Regions from separate parts of the Homo sapiens genome. Here region 1 is linked to region 2. The links come from fine-mapping of genetic effects on gene expression. A gene starts in region 2. The other region holds a variant in brackets. All regions are shown on one strand. Distances are between the middles of the regions.

Region 1 (2,927 bases), 110 kb before region 2:
CATGCATTTCATTGCTAAAGTTTTACAGGGACAAACCCCAGCTATTTAGAATGAACAAATGAACAATATTTAATTTCAAAGAGGGAGATTTATAATAGCTTGACATTTTAGCTCTTACTGAGCTTTTCTCCATCTCCCTTGGGAGGAGTCTAGTTGCAGATTAGAGTGACAGCTCTGTGCACTGATCTAAGCTAAGACATTGGTCTTGTATCTCTATTTTCAAAGTGTCTGTATGAGAAACTGTCCAGACAGTAAGGAAACAAGGAAAGAAAAAAGAATGAAATAAAAATGTTCTTTGTAGCACATAGGCAACACAGTATATCTGTATATCACATTGTGCGTACAAAATTTATAGAATTTGTTATGATTACCACAATTAATGCCATAACAACCTGGGATAGATTACAGCATTTGGCAGTGGAAGTCCTCCTGAATCAGGACCCAAAGTATAGTATTTCACAAAGTTTTTTTTTTTTTTTTGAGACGGAGTCTCGCTCTGTTGCCCATGCTGGAGTTCAATGGCAACCTCTGCCTCCTGAGTTCAAGCTATTCTCCTGCCTCAGCCTCCCGAGTAGCTGGGATTACAGGCGCCCAGCACTGCTCCAGGCTAATTTTTGTATTTTTAGTAGAAATGGGGTTTTGTCTTGTTGGCCAGGCGGGTTTCGAACTCCTGACTTCAGGTGATCCACCTGCCTTGGCCTCCCAAAGTGCTGGAATTACAGGCATGAGCCACCGTGCCCAGCCAAATATTTTTTTAAATCACTTTTATTTAGTTTCCATAATAAATAAAAGAAAGCTATAATCAATAATAGGTATATGTAGACATAGAGTGTGGAATAATAGACATTAGAGATTCAGAAGGAGAGACGGAAAGGGGATAAGGAATGAGAAATTACCTAATATATCCAATGTACATTATTCAGATGATGGTAACACTAAAAGCCCAGACTTCAGCACTATGTAGCAATATATCCATATAACGAAACTGCATCTGTACCCCTTAAATTTACACCAATAAAAATAAATCACTTTTTAAATTATTACATACCCATGAAGGGTTCCACGTACTGTAATTTTTCTTCTAATGTGTGGTTGCTTCCAGTTTTCCTAAGATGCGATTATTGTAGTTTCAGTTTTTTAAAGATTTGTCTTCTCAGAACACAGAATGCCTTTGTTAATCCTATTTAGATATCATCATAAAGAACTGTCTAAATTTCTTACTAAACTAGTTGTAAGCTCACTGTTAAAATTATAAAAGTAATATCTTTCTCATTATGGAAAATGTAGAAAAATGTAAGAAGAATATAAAAATTACCTATGATCTCACCATTCAGGACAGACACTGTCAACATTTGATGAATATATATATATATATATATATGAATTATCCTTTTTGTCGATGCCATTACAAAACTGGGATCATATCATATTGTAGTTATTTACTTACTTATAAAGTGATTTTCTTCCAGAAATGTTTTAATTTGGCTTATATAAATACACACAAAATAAAATAAAAAACAAGTGGAAGAGAAAGGAGGATGATAGGAAAAATGAGACTAGGGAAGGTAAGAGAAAGTCAGGTGTCACGTTAGTATACAATGCATAA[T/C]GCACTCCAGTATGTTTGGGAGAAGTGTAGCACACATTCAGCTCTGAGTCTGCTGGCAGCAAATGTTAAAATCCAGGGCATGAATTCCTAGAGTCCATAAAATATATACTGCCATGAAATCGGTGATACATAGCTCTTGCTGACAGTCAGCCTAAGGAACTCTTCTCTCAAATCATAATCAGTAGACAAAGAACAAGATAGTGAACAAGAGCCTCCTTAATGTTTTCCCAGTAATTACAACACTCTCCTTCTTGGGGCTTGGGAGAATATCTTTGCAAAATCCACATCTGATAAGGGGTTAATATTCAAAATACACAAGGAACTTAAACAACTCAATAGAAAGAAAACAACCCAGTTAAAGATGGGCACAGGACCTGAATAAATATTTCTTAAAACATACAAAAGGCCAACAGGTATATGAAAATATGTTCAACATCACTAATCATTAGAGAAATACAATCAAAAACACAATGAGATAGCAAATTGCACCTGTTAGAATGGCTGTTATCAAAAAGACAAAGGAAGCTGAGGCAGGAGGATTGCTTGTGCCCAGGCATTTGAGGCTTCAGTAAGCTATGATCATGCCACTGCACTCCAGCCTGGGCAACAGAGTGACACCATATCAAAAAAAAGAAAAAAAGAAAAAGAAAAAAGAAAAAAACTAGGACAAAAAATAACAAGTATTGGTGAGGATGTGGAGAAAAGGTAACCCTTGCACACTGTTGGTGGGAGTTTAAATTATTATACCCTTCGTGGAAAAAAGCATGAAAGTTCTTCAAAAAAATTAAAACTAGAATTAACATATGATCTAGCGTTCCTACTACTGCATATATATTCAAAGGAAATGAAATCTGTATGTTGAAGATACATTTGCACTGCACTCGTATTTATTGCAGCATTATTCACAATAGCCACGATAAGAAATGACAAGTATCCATTAACAGATGAATGGATAAAGAAAATGTGGTATATATATGCAATGGTACACTATTCTGCAATAAAAAGGAAAGTAATTTTGTGACTTGCAACAACATGGATGAACCTGGAGGACATTATATTATGTGAAATCATCCATATACAGAAAGACAAATACTGCTTCATCTCACTCACTTGTAGAATCTAAAAATTTTGATCTGGTGGAAGTAGGGAGTAGAATGGTGGTTGCCAGAGAATTGGGCAATGGTGGTTGGGAGTTGAGAAGATGCTGGTCAAAGGATCCAAAATTTCATATAGATAGGAGGAATAAATTCAAGAGATCCATTGTACATCTTGGTGACTATAGTTGGTGATATGGTTTGGCTCTGTGTCCCCACCCAAATCT
Region 2 (2,927 bases):
GCTGAAGACAGCAAGGGCCAGACAAAATAAGTCTCTGGGCAGCGTGCAGGTAGAAAGTTGACAGTTAAAAAGTTCCTTTTGAGGAGGAAGGTGGTGTCACCTGTTTTGTGTTTCAAGCATTCAAGAGCAAACAGTATGTCTGATTTTTTGTTTGTTTGTTTCTTAATTAGGAAAGAGCAAACAAGTATACCATTGTAGTGGGCCTCATGTCAGGGCATGGGAGCAGCATCCAGGGTAGAAAGCCTGTTGGGCCCTCAGCTCCTGGGGCTGTCTGTCTAGGCCAGTCTCCTCTCTTCTGTGGAATTCTGCAAGTCCATGTTCAGGGGGTGATGCTCTCGGTCTGACGGTGAAGGAGTTAAATTTTTTTGTCATTCATACCTCCTGGAGACCCTCTCCAGTAAGTGTCCTTCGGCCATAATAAAACTTCGTCCCTAGTGTGGTGGCTCACGCCTGTAATCCCAGCACTTTGGGAGGCCGAGGCAGGTGGATCACTTGAGGTCAGGAGTTCGAGATGAGCCTAGCCAAGACGGTGAAACCCCATCGCTACTAAAAATACAAAAATTAACCCCATCTCTACTAAAAATAGAAAAATTAGCCAGGCATGGTGGCGGGTGCCTGTAATCACAGCTACTCAGGAGGCTGAGGCAGGAGAATCACTTGAACTCAGGAGGAGGAGGATGCACTAAGCTGAGATCACGCCACTGCACTCCAGCCTGGGCAATGGGGCAAGGCTCTGCCTCAAAAAAACAAAAACTTCCCTCTGGAATTCCCATAGGCATTGCAAACAACAGAATTCAATCTTCCTGGACATCCAGGATCATTAGGGGCTTTTTATCAGCTAGTGCAAGAGGAGCAGGAATTATTACGAGCTTGCTGCCTGTAGGATTAACTGGGTCCTTTGGGACACACACCACTGGGGACAGAGGAGGGTGAGCGTCACTGTTACAAGTAACCAAGAGGGAAATCCTGTTGAGAAAGTTGCCTTAAACACATTAGTTATCTTTTAATACACGTATGTAATCCTCACAACAAGTCCTTTAAGTAAGCAGTACTCGTAGCTCCATTTTACTGAAAAAGAAACTGAGTTTTAGGGAAACTAAGTGACTAGGCCAAGTTCTCACAGCTATAAAGTGGCTGTGACTGTAAACCCAACAGTTTGAATCAAGGACCTGTAACTGTCACCACTAAGCTGTGGAGTAGTGACAGCATTAGCTTCCAAGTATGTGCCAGCCACACTTTCTGAGCAACCTTATACTTGAAATGTAGACATCGTGTAGAACCTACTCTCCTGTACTCACAGTTGAGATAGGATTAAACCCCAATTTCAAAGCCCCTTACAGAGTTCCACTTACCAGGTTATTTCAGCCGGCAACCAGGAACTAGACTGAATGCAATCCTCCCACATCCAAGGTCTATGAGGAAGTGCTCTCACTTCCAAAGTCTGCAGGGGAAGTGCTCTCATTGGATGTCCAACTGGCCCCGCCCCCAGAGTCACATTAGGGTTACCCCAGGGGCCCCTGGGAAATGTAGTTGCAGGGACTCAGGTTGCTCCTGTGGACCCCTTATTCATATCTTACCATAAAAAAGGGTGGAGAGTTGTATTGTCCGATTATCCCCATGCCACCGGCTGGGAGGACTGTGCTCTTATATTTCACCTGGTTCCTGCTCTCTGGGAGCCTGACACTAGATGTCCCATGTGTGATGTGGAACGTGAGAGCTTGGAACAGGTCCAGGAAAAGCAGAACTGGTAACCTAGAGGAGGCAAAAGAGGAAGATGGAAGGCTTTAATCACACTCCAAGTTTATGGTATACTTTCTTCATCAGTTCCCATTAGACTTCTTTTAAAAATTTTTCTTCCCTTCATCCATCATCCTCATTCCCACTGGCCTCTCTACCTGAAGGCACTGGGCAATGTGTCTGAAAGAGCCCCATGTGTGTGGTATGAGGGTGATATATGTCATATGGCTTTGTTTATGCTGGTGTTTTTTATTTACATTCATGGTATTGATCTACAACTCTTGCTGTTTCTTATGCATTTTTCTCTATACAACATAATTTTTGTTTCTTTATTGACCCAATATACATGTTTACAGGGTACAATGTGGTGTTCTTATACATACATACATTGTGTAATGATCAAATCATGATAATTAGCACATCTATCACTTCAAACATTTATCATTTCTTTGTTTTGAGAACATTCCACCAGTGAGTGTTTCCTTGTGCTGTGCCTTCGGCACCTACTGTTCTAGAACATGCCTCTGGCGTCCTGCCACGTGAACTCGGGACTCTATGCGAAGGCTTTCTCTTGGCATGTCCTCAGGCAGGCTAGATAGACTTGAAAACTATGGGTCTGGGACCACTATTCAGCCCAGGATGTTGGGAGTTGGAGGCCACATATCTTTGTGCTGTACCTGGTCAGGTGGAATTACCCTTAGGCTTGTATAACACTGCCTCCTGGTGTTGTCCAGTGGAATTATGCTCCCTTTGTTCACAGGTAGCTTGCCAATGATGCACCCTTTATTGATTGTCAAACTGCCCTGGTCTCACTGTCCCGCGACAACTCCTGCACTGGTACGTCCTTAAATCATCTTCCAAATAATCTACCTGAATGCAAATCTTTGTTTTAGGGTCTGGCGGAAGGCCACTTTAGTTAGGTGGTTGTGAAGTGGACTGGAACTTGGATTCCTCCTGCTGAGGTAGCAGATTTCCCTCTGACCCGGGGCGGGGGTCTAAATGCTCCCTCTGTGGCCTCCAGCCTAGAATCAAGGGCCTTGGAGGCTCTGCCCAGTGCTGTGTTCCACTGCAGTGGGGTCAGCACTAGCCTCCAATGCAAAATCCCACACTAACATTCCTTTTACTTCCTAAGGAGGTAGACTCTGTCTTCACACTGTGCCGCCTGGGCTCGTGAGGATATTTGTTGAACT

Direction of the effects. Positions count from the first base shown, and alleles are read on the strand shown. Sizes are in standard deviations (SD) of each study's normalised expression.
In carriers of allele T in region 1, the expression in transverse colon of the gene that starts at base 1,424 in region 2 tends to be lower than with C alone (small effect, 0.12 SD a copy in GTEx).

Evidence for each region.
Region 1: its variant is fine-mapped to the expression of NAT1 in transverse colon (GTEx, PIP 0.96).

What each region holds. Positions count from the first base shown.
Region 1 is chr8:18,322,240-18,325,166 of GRCh38, reverse strand. No RefSeq gene overlaps it. Among named protein-coding and RNA genes, the nearest start is that of NAT2, 68 kb to the left of the region's middle. The variant T/C (reference allele first, on the strand shown) is at 1,607.
Region 2 is chr8:18,208,606-18,211,532 of GRCh38, reverse strand. It overlaps NAT1 (N-acetyltransferase 1), which reads right to left and starts at 1,424. Exons shown (of 3, transcript NM_000662.8): 1 at 1,353-1,424.